Linked DNA regions of Homo sapiens. The protein of the gene in region 2 interacts with the protein of the main gene of each other region in a pairwise test. Each region holds a gene or a part of one and is shown on either strand. Other genes may lie near its edges.

Region 1 (3,651 bases), about 140 Mb from region 2:
GCGTGGTGGCGCATGCCTGTAATCCCAGCTACTCGGGAGGCTGAGGCAGGAGAATCACTTGAACCCTGTAGGCAGAGGTTGCAGTGAGCCGAGATCGCACCATTGCATTCCAGCCTGGGAAAGGAGGGAAACTCCGTCTCAAAAAAAAAAAAAAAAGAAAGAAAGAAAAGAAAAGAAAATCTGGGTCAAGCCTGTAATCGCAGCACTTTGGGAGGCCGAGGCAGGCGGATCATGAGGTCAGGAGATGGAGACCATCCTGGCTAACATGGTGAAACCCCATCTCTACAAAAAGTACAAAAAATTAGCCAGGAGTGGTGGCGGGCGCCTGTAGTCCCAACTACTCGGGAGGCTGAGGCAGGAGAATGGCGTGAACCCAGGAGGTGGAGCTTGCAGTGAGCAGAGATCGTACCACTGCACTCCAGCCTGGGCGACAGAGCGAGACCGCGTCTGAAAAAAAAAAAAAAAAAAAGAAAAGAAAATCTATAATGTCGGGTAGAAGTGATGTAAAGTGACCCTTTTATAGCAAACTTCCCGGGGTTTAGTGAACTCAGACTTGAATCATTTGGCTTTGAAACATACAGAGCAAATATGATCAACGGGAATGATAATCAACATTTTCTGTATAAAAGCAAGGAATATTTTCCGAGTAGGGTGTGTGTTCCTGACACCTTGTAGGACCAATATGATAAGTCAGTATCCCCAGTTCTCAGTACACAAACCGAACCAGTACACAAGTTCACATCCCTGAAAGGATCATTCCAGGAACAACATTCCAAGGGACATTAGTCTCATTGCTCAAGGGGCTAAAACACAAGGCAAGAAAAAAGACTAACTTTAGGGAGAATTGAAGAGATACAATACTAGAATAATTCACCCTAATGTGTGGCCCAAAGAATCTAGGTTTTCCAAATCCAGCACAGTCGAGCACAGAGTAGAATAAAGGCCTATTAAAAGAGAGGGTCTCAAATTTAGACTTTGGCAGTTATTTACAAATGATATTAAGTATTTATTAAGTATAAGCATTTAAAATATACTACAATTTTTATAAGCCAGTCTGGTACTACTTTTTAAGATATACCAGACCAGGCCGGGCATGGTGGCTCACATCTGTAATCTCAGCACTTTGGGAGGCCGAGGCGGGTGGATCACCTGAGGTCAGGAGTTCGAGACCAGCCTGGCCAACATGGTGAAACCTCATCTCTACTAAAAATACAAAAATTAGCCAGGCGTGGTGGCAGGCGCCTGTAATCCCAGCTGCTCAGGGGGCCGAGGCAGGAGAATCGCTTGAACCCGGGAGGCGGAGGTTGCAGTGAGATGAGATTGCGCCATCGCACTCCAGCCTGGGGGACAAGAGATACCCAGACCCTCAAAAAAACTGGAGTGATCTGGGCCTCTTTCAGATTCCAATGACCCCTAATAGTCGAGGATTTTGATTGCAAATGGAAAACTGCTTTTGGCTACTAAGCATCTGTGGGGTCAATTCATAAAAATCTAATATAGAGATTATTTTAGTACAGGACATGAAATGGAAGGGGAGAACAAGTATACAGGTTTTGGAGTGCCTTACATTCAGCATTTCCTCCTGAAAGTAGCCTAAGATTCCTGGCAATTAAGGCTTCCAACATTTGAGATTAAAATCACATAAACTTAGAAATGGAAGGGAACAACTTCCATCCCTACTGTGAGAGAACAAGGCCAGAAAGGGTTCTCAGGGATGGCTGGTTTATAAATGTATAACCTTTTAGTTTAAGATTCCTTTTGCAACCAGTGAGTTAGCAGTCTGGCAAAGTTTGTTTTTGGCACTGGTACATATTAATATAATCAGGGGTATAGTGATGTCCAAATGAAATTCATCCTTCTAGCTTCCCAGCCTATCACATGGCCTAGTCTCAATCTCTGTTTTTTTTTTTTGGTGGCCTACACCTCAACTAGAGTGGGTTTGAGCCATGAATTCAACATTAAACAGTAGAAAGATGACAGAACAAAGGAATCTGGGCACAAGTGAAAGCTGGCAGATTAGTAGAGGACAACAATATAAGTGACAAGTTTGCAGTTTCCTGACTCCTTGAGGCTCTCAAAATTCTGAAGATTATGACTAGCCTTAAAAAAATTTCTAGGCCGGGCTTGGTGGCTTATGCCTGTAATCCCAGCACTTTGGGAGGCCGAGGCAGGAAGATCACGAGGTCAGGAGATCAAGACCATACTGGCTAACACAGTGAAACCCCGTCTCTACTAAAAATACAAAAAAAAATTAGCTGGGCGTGGTAGTGGGCACCTGTAGTCCCAGCTACTCAGGAGGCTGAGGCAGGAGAATGGCGTGAACCCGGGAGGTGGAGCTTGCAGTGAGCCGAGATTGCATCACTGCACTCCAGCCTGGACGAGAGCGAGACTCTGTCCCCTCCCAAAAAAAAAAAAAAAAAAATTCTGAGGATTAGAATATGTATTTTGGTTTGGTTTGGTTTGGCCATCTTACATAGTCCTATGAAACTGCTTCTAGTTATGACTAAACATCTCTTTATTCATATTTCTTTTTTTTTTTTTTTTTTTGAGACGGAGTCTCACTCTGTCACCCAGGCTGAGTGCAGTGGTGCAATCTTGGCTCACTGCAACCTCCGCCTCCCCGGTTCAAGCAATTCTCTGCCTCAGCCTCCAGAGTAGCTGGGATTACAGGTGCCCGCCACCACGCCCGGCTAATTTTTGTATTTTTAGTAGAAATGGGGTTTCACCATTTCTTGACCAGGCTGGTCTTGAACTCCTGAACTCGTGATCCACCCACCTTGGCCTCCCAAAGTACTGGGTTTACAGGTGTGAGCCACCGGCCCGGCTTTATTCATATTTCCGTAGGTCCAAACCAAAATATAGTGACTGTGTACTCTTAGAGTTTACAAAGAATTTCTGCTTATTCTACTTTTATTCTTTACATTTTTTGTAGAGATGGGGTCCCGCTATGTTGGCCAGGCAGGTCTCAAACTCCTGCAAGCAATTCTCCTGCCTTGGCCTCCAACGTGCTGGGATTATAGGCGTAAGCCACCACTACAGGCTCTACTTTTATTCTTTTTTATTTATTATTATTTTTTTTGAGACAGGGTCTTGTTCTGTTGACCAGGCTTGAGTGCAGTGGTGCAATCTCAGCTCACTGCAGCCTTAACTTCCCAGGCTCAAGCGATCCTCCCATCAAAGCCTCCCAAGTACCTAGGACCACAGGCACACACCACCACGCTGGGCTAATTTTTTTATTTTTTATTGTAGAAATGAGGTCTCACTGTGTTCCCCAGACTGGTCTCAAACTCCCGGACTCAAGCCTCCCAAAGTGCTGGGATTACAGGCATGAGCCACCGCATTACTTTTATTCTTTTTTTTTTTTTTTTTTTTTTGAGACAGAGTCTGGCTCTCTCACCCAGCCTGGAGTGCAGTGGCACAATCTCAGCTCACTGCGACCTCCACCTCCTGGGTTCAAGTGATTCTCCTGCCTCAGCCTCCTGAGTAGCTATGATTACAGGCACCTGCCACCATGCCTGGCTCATTTTTGTATTTTAGCACAGATGAGGCTTCACCATGTTGGCCAGGCTGGTCTTGAACTCCTGACCTCAGGTGATCTGCCCACCTTGACCTCCCAAAGTGCTGAGATTACAGGCGTGAGCCACCATGACT
Region 2 (3,651 bases):
ACTGCCAACAGCTTCATGTCGACCTTTTTGCCATAATTTTTATATAGCCTTTTTTGTTTTTAAATGGTAATTTAGAAAGTCAACTAGGAAAATGTGTTACAGGTTTATCTTCCAGGAGAATAGGACTGGAGTCGAGATCTTGAATGTGGCTTGGAAGAAGGCAAGCCCACCCCAGAGAGATGAGTTGACAGTTGTTTCTGACCACTGCTTGCTTAGAGGGCCTGCGTGTCTGTGACCGCCTAGCTTTGCGCCCCTGACTAGGCTGCCCCTTAATTACAAATGTCTTTATATATTGCTCCAGCTAAGGCTTGGAGTAGTCGGTTAAGAACTTGAACTTCGGTTTTTGCAGTGAAACAGCATTTGAGAATATCACCTTCTGATAAGCCTTATTTTATAAGGTGGGTACTGTAGTGGGAGGCAGTGTGAGAGATGCTTGAAGGATGCACTGCTGTCCTGCATTTCAGCATCTTCAGGATGCTGTGCAGCTGAAACATTTGATAACGGTGGAACTGTTCGTTATTTTGCAAGCCTGTGATTCCCTATTGAATGTTTTCTCTCGCCATTTGACAAATGAGTGTTTCTCTGTCTTCAGCCTCAGTGAAGGATGAGATCAGTGGAGAGCTGGCTGCTTCTTCAGGGGTTTCCACTCCAGGGTCAGCAGGTCATGACATCATCACAGAACAGCCACGGTCACAGCACACACTGCAGGCGGACTCAGTGGATCTGGCCAGCTGTGACTTGACAAGCTCTGCCACTGATGGGGATGAGGAGGATATCTTGAGCCACAGCTCCAGCCAGGTCAGCGCCGTCCCATCTGACCCTGCCATGGACCTGAATGATGGGACCCAGGCCTCGTCGCCCATCAGCGACAGCTCCCAGACCACCACCGAAGGGCCTGATTCAGCTGTTACCCCTTCAGACAGTTCTGAAATTGTAAGTGGGCAGAGGGGCCTGACATCTTTTTTTTTATTTTTTATTTGAGACAGAGTCTCACTCCATAGTGCAGTGGAGGCCGGGCACAGGGGCTCATGCCTGTAATCCCAGCACTTTGGGAGACTGAGGCAGGCGGATCACTTGAGGTCAGGAGTTCGAGACCAGCCTGGCCAACATGGTGAAACCCTGTCTCTACTAAAAATACAAAAATTAGTTGGGCGTGGTGGCACATGTCTGTAGTCCCAGCTGTTAGGGAGGCTGAGGCAGGAGAATTGCTTGAGCCTGGGAGGCAGAGGTTGCAATGAGCCGAGATCGTGACACTGCACTCCAGCCCGGGCAACAGAGCAAGACTCCATTTCAAAAAAAATAAAAAAATAAAGTGCAGTGGCTCGTTCTCAGCCCACTGCAACTTCTGCCTCCCAGGCTCGAGCGATTCTCCCGCCTCAGCCTCCTGAGTAGGTGGGATTACAGGTGGGCACCACCACACTCAGCTAATGTTTGTATTTTCAGTAGAGACAGGGTTTCACCATGTTGGCCAGGCTGGTCTCAAACTCCTGACCTTAGATGATCCACCCACCTTGGCCTCCTAAAGTATTGGGATTATAGTTGTGAGCCACCATGCCCGGCCCTGCCACCTGCCATCTTTTGAGTTCTTCCCTGGAGACCTAGACCTGAACCCTCCTGCTTGTTCTCTTGTTATCTAATACCCCTATTGACAGCGCAGCTTAGATCATTAATGGAGAGCTTGACCTCATCTGATACCTTCACTGAAGGAAACAACTTAGTGTCTTTTGTGTTGAACACTGAGGTAAAAAATTGGAATAGTTGATTATATGAACTCTGCTAAAATTGAGTGCATTTTACATTTTTTAAGGCCTTGTTGGGCCCTGGTTAAATAATTATTTTTAAAAATCCTTAAGGAGCCTATTATAAACAGATCTGTGGTCTTAATGAAATGTGATTAATACTGTGCATTATTTTAAGAACTTTTGACTTTTCAAAAAACTTTTACAACATTTCCCATTTGATAGCGGCATAGGTTTAAGCACTTCTCATCTCTAAGTTAGTGGACAAAAAACCCTCATGGATAGTCTAATAATGTTTGCTACAAGTCCATGTTGAGTTTTATACTCCATTTTATTTTCAGTTTTAAAAACTGTGGTTAAATATGTGTAACATAAAATTTATGTTCTTAACCATTTTTTGCGTATACAGTTCGCTGGTATTAAATACATTTAAATAATGTCATGGAATCATTGCTACCACCCATCTCTGTAACCTTTTGATCATGTAACACTGAAGCTCTGTTCCCATTGAACTCTATTCCTCCTTTCCCGCCAAGTCCCTGGCAACCACGATTCTTCTTTCTGTCTTCTGAATTTGACTACTTTGGGTTCTCATATACTTTAGGAGTCACACAGTATTTGTTTTACTTAGCATAATGTCCCCAAAGCTCATGCATGTTGTAGCCTATGTTAGAACTTCCTAATGTTTCAGGCCAAATACTATTCCATTGTATGGATAGGCCACATTTTGCTTTTCCATTCCTCTGTCCATGGACACTTGTATTGCTTCATGTTTTAGCCATTGTGAATCATGCTGTTATGAACGTGGGTGTACAGATAGCTCCTGGAGACTCTGCTTTCCATTTTTTTGGCTAAATACCCAGAAATGGAGTTGCTTTTACATTCCAATTTTAATTTAAAACATTCATATCATTGAGTGTTTTACTTAATAGTATAGTAGTTAACAAACTTAATAAAATAGTATTTTGGTAATAATTTGCTGGTAGTCCATTGTTCAGTTTTTTTAGGTAAATTACACAGGACATTTCAAGTGGACATGAAACATCTTGTGATGTGGAATCATGCCCCAAGCTGATGGCTAAACATATGAAATACCATACCCTAAATTTAGTAGATTTAGTCTTTGCAATTTAGGAGATAACCTGTTATATTGTTAGGTTTTTGTCGAAAAGCTTTGTCCTCATATTTCCAACTTGCTGTAAAATTTGTTTGTGAAGACAAATATTTTTGTATGGGTTTTTTCTTTTTCATATTAAAAAGAAATGTCCACATTGGAATTTTTTTGGAGTTTTTAGAGCTAATAGAGCTTTTCATAATGTAGTGGGAATGAGTGATCAGTAAGCTCTTAGCAGTTTCCATGCGTGCATTTCTGTGCCTTGAAATAAATGACAGATGAGTACATTTGTGTTCTGTGTGTAAAATGTGCTCTTTCCTCATTGCACTTCCATGTTGGAGGGCTTGTCTCTTGGTGATCACACTTCAAAATTCTCACAGCCCCCCTTGAACCGTTTAGGTGTTAGACGGTACCGACAACCAGTATTTGGGCCTGCAGATTGGACAGCCCCAGGATGAAGATGAGGAAGCCACAGGTATTCTTCCTGATGAAGCCTCGGAGGCCTTCAGGAACTCTTCCATGGGTATGTGGACTACAGGTGATGCGCTACAAAGTGGTTTGTATTCAGACCTGGACATCTTAATTATATCTTTGCTTCCAAGAAGAAGTCCTTTGATACTGTTTTCTGAGTTCTGAATAGCTGATGAAAATGACCAATTGAGGAATAATCATACTTTTTCTTGATCTAAATCTTATACTTTTGAGTTATCTTAGCATAAATGTATAATTGTATTTTAAGTGGAAATTTGTCACTTAATCTTGATTTCTCTGTTTTTAAAGCCCTTCAACAGGCACATT
Region 3 (3,651 bases), on a different chromosome or scaffold from region 2:
CTACGACAAGCGCTGTGACCTGTGGAGCCTGGGCGTGGTCCTCTACATCATGCTGAGTGGCTACCCACCCTTCGTGGGTCACTGCGGGGCCGACTGTGGCTGGGACCGGGGCGAGGTCTGCAGGGTGTGCCAGGTGAGTGCGGCCCCAGGGAGCACTGCGTAGACCCTGCTAGGGGTCAGTGTGGTTGGGGGATGCCAAGCAGGACTGGGCTGGGAGAGCGTTCCTGATCGGGATGGGGGCTCATAGTGCCCTCTCCCGCTCCTGTCACGGTGGCCACAAGGTAAAATAGAGATAATCAGACACTCCGCCCAGCTGGGAGTTCAGGGCAGGATTGTTAGAAGATCATGCCTGAACTGACTCTTTTTTTTTTTTTTTTTTTTTTTTTGAGATGGAGTCTCTCTCTGTCGCCCAGGCTGGAGTGCAATGGCACGATCTCGACTCACTGCAACCTCTGCCTCCTGGGTTCAAGCGATTCTCCTGCCTTAGGCCTCCCAAGTAGCTGGGACTACAGGCGCCGGCCACCACGTCTGGCTAATTTTTTATATTTTCAGTAGAGACGGGGTTTCATCGTGTTAGCCAGGATGGTCTCAATCTCCTGACCTTGTGATCCTCCCGCCTCGGCCTCCCAAAGTGCTGGGATTACAGGCGTGAGCCACCGCGCCCAGCCCTGAACTGACTCTTAAAGGGTGCATCCTGCCCTGCGGAAGAGGGACAAGAATCACAAGTAGAAGGAACAGCACGGGCATAGATGTGGGCACATGAAATAGCTGGAGTGTCTAGGAAGGAAGAGTGGAGTAGTAGGTCGGTGGTAGTGGGAGATGAGGCCTGAGAGGTTCACAGAGAGTCCTCTAGGAAGAGCCAAGGAATTTGGGCTTTGTTCTATGGGTGATCTCCACTCATCACCCATCCAGCCCACCAAGGGCATAGCCATCCTGGCCTGCCAAGGGCATTCTATATAGTTTGATCATCTAGGGGACAGTGCGGGGTGAGTCTGGGAAGAGGCCCCAGTCTGTGGCATCCCCAAGCCATGAGCTGCAGCTACAGCTGAGATCAATTGAAGCCGGTTGATCAAAACAATGACAGGCACATCCTGCCCATCCCTGGCAGTGTGGCCTCAGGAGGAATCTTTTGTACCTAGAACAAGCTGTTTGAAAGCATCCAGGAAGGCAAGTATGAGTTTCCTGACAAGGACTGGGCACACATCTCCAGTGAAGCCAAAGACCTCATCTCCAAGCTCCTGGTGCGAGATGCAAAGCAGAGACTTAGCGCCGCCCAAGTTCTGCAGCACCCATGGGTGCAGGGGGTGAGTGACTCCAGGGAGGGGTGTTTTCCACCACTTCAGGCCTGTGGCATGGCCACAAGGAAGCTGTCATGCCAGCAAGTGCTGAGCACCAGCCTTGTGGCTGGTGCAGCTGAAGAGGACAGCGTCTATCCCTGAGTGTGTAGAGTGAATCGACTCCTCCTGTTACCCCAGACTGAGCCCCTTATAGGCCATAGAGTTGGCTGTAAACTTGGCCACAGACTAAGCCCCAACAGAGTCCTCTGGGGATTTGGTACATGCACCCAGCCCCGCAAGCATCCTATTGTCATTTGAAGTCTGTAGCATCCTCCTCTTATATAGAAGCATCATTAGCTGAGGACACCCAGAAGTGAGCAAGGCCGTGCTGCGCTGATTGTTGTGTGGCCGAGTTGGGGCACATAGGTTCTCCTCATGGTCTGGGAGTCTGGGTACAGCTGGCCTGAAAGGCAAATGATCGTATTTTTTCCCTAAGCTTAGAATTCATGTCTTCACTAGAAAACATTTTTAAAAATCCTCCTTGGCTACTCACAATACCTGACCTCTGCCCTCCAAGGGGTCTGCCAGATGCTCCCATGACTTTCTGGTCTCCTTGGTGTGCCAGGCTCTGGCCAGCCTCAGTGACCCTACCAGTGGAAGGAGGCAAGCATTGCCATCCTATGTTGCAGATGGGGACCCAGTTTGAGTGTCTAACTGGCTCATTCCCAGACCCATAAGTGAGCACCTGCCACATGCCAGAGGGACAAGTGAGACCCAGTCCCTGTCTCTGTGCTCTAGTGGAGAGAAGTAGACAAGGGGATAAGTTACAGCATGATAAAGGCTTCTGAAAAGTGCTAGGGGCACAAAGGGAGCAAGACCCCACTCCCCATCCCGGGCCTGAGACTGAGGCAGGAAGGTGGCAGGGAAGGGGAAATGTGCGTCACAGGGGAAGTGACCCTTGAGCTGGGTCCTGGGGGATGATTAGGACTTTGCCAGGCAAAGGGAAAGAGGGGCTCTCCATGCAGAAGCAGCTATGTTGGGGGCTGCGGCTGCAGATTGTACCTTTCTTGCTCTCTGCTTGGAAGGCCTGACCCTGCAAGCAAGCATAGCCATTTCCCTGTGCTGCGCCAGCAGCCTATAGTAACCTACCCACTGCTGGCTTGGGTGGGGCAGTTCTTGAAAGGAGGGAGCAGTGCTTTACCTACACATCTGTCCTTCCCATTCTAGCAAGCTCCAGAAAAGGGACTCCCCACGCCGCAAGTCCTCCAGAGGTAAATGCTCTGACCACCCCCACGCCATGCTCTTCCTCAAGCTCTCAGCCACCATGGGGGTGGGGGCCGGGGGAGCCCATCTCTAGGCTCAGGTAGCTTTCTCCAAAGGGGCTCCCTGCCCATTTCCCCTCCTCACTCTCTTTTCCTCTACTCTGGATCTATCTCCCACCCTTCCCTTCCTTCACCTAGATTGGATCCTCTGCCCTCCAGCACCTTAAGGCCCCTCCTAGCACTGTTGGCAGGAAAAAAAACCTGTTTTGCCCATTGAACTGTAACTTACAGCCCAAAGACAGACCTTACCCATGGGTTATTCACACAAGGCTTCCCTCTGCCCTTGTATTTAATGAAAGGAGCAGAAGTGAGGGGCACGTACGGTACTAGACGGACAGTGATAATAGTGGCCACCAGGATTAAGTCCTTACCATGGCCAGGCATGGTGGCAGGTGCTGTAATGCCAGCTACTTGGGAGGCTGAGGCAGGAGAATCGCTTGAATCCAGCAGACGGAGGTTGCAGTGAGCTGCGATCACGCCACTGCACTCCATCCTGGGCAACAGAGCAAGCATCTGTCTCAAAAAAAATAGTAAGTCCTTACCACATGTCAGACGTGGTGCTAAGGGCTGGATATAATTATATCCATAATCTTCACGATGAATTTAAGAGAGGTGTTCTAGATGAGAGAGGTGAGGAGTGGCAATCAAGTTAACTTGCTTAAGGCCACACAGCAGCCCTGGGCTGTTTGACTCTGGAGCCCTTTTACAGCTGGACTGCCCTGTTCCCAAAGAGCCAGGGCTAAGCAGTGTGGGAAACCTTTTTGGCACCAGCCTCATGGCCAGCTTTTAGGAGCTACACAAGGAAGTCATACACCTCCATAATCGCAATTCGTGTGACCCAGTTGCTATTGCCCAATTTGGGTTCCTACCTGACTCTCTAGAGCAGCCTCCAGATGCCTTTAGATGCCAAACCTCAGATCCGCCTTAGAAGATTTATTCTGCAAACCCAAAGTGCCTGTCCACGCTAGCCCTGAGCTAGGTGCTGGGGACGTGGCATAAGCGGCGCAGGCCTTGCTCTGGGAGCTTTTTCCCCACGCAGGCTGGGAGAGGGA

Evidence for each region.
Region 1: the proteins of HTT (region 2) and MGARP interact in binary tests that used the Homo sapiens proteins (3 or more experiments, as listed by UniProt).
Region 3: the proteins of HTT (region 2) and MKNK1 interact in binary tests that used the Homo sapiens proteins (3 or more experiments, as listed by UniProt).

The regions. Positions count from the first base shown.
Region 1 is NC_000004.12:139,270,159-139,273,809, forward strand, and holds part of MGARP (protein MGARP), read right to left. Parts: intron 1-3,651. UniProt on the Homo sapiens protein: Plays a role in the trafficking of mitochondria along microtubules. Regulates the kinesin-mediated axonal transport of mitochondria to nerve terminals along microtubules during hypoxia.
Region 2 is NC_000004.12:3,126,672-3,130,322, forward strand, and holds part of HTT (huntingtin), read left to right. Parts: intron 1-592; coding exon 593-933; intron 934-3,252; coding exon 3,253-3,376; intron 3,377-3,633; coding exon 3,634-3,651.
Region 3 is NC_000001.11:46,559,131-46,562,781, reverse strand, and holds part of MKNK1 (MAP kinase-interacting serine/threonine-protein kinase 1), read left to right. Parts: coding exon 1-133; intron 134-1,108; coding exon of another isoform or gene 1,109-1,139; coding exon 1,140-1,304; intron 1,305-2,504; coding exon 2,505-2,548; intron 2,549-2,970; exon of another isoform or gene 2,971-3,112; intron 3,113-3,651. UniProt on the Homo sapiens protein: May play a role in the response to environmental stress and cytokines. Appears to regulate translation by phosphorylating EIF4E, thus increasing the affinity of this protein for the 7-methylguanosine-containing mRNA cap.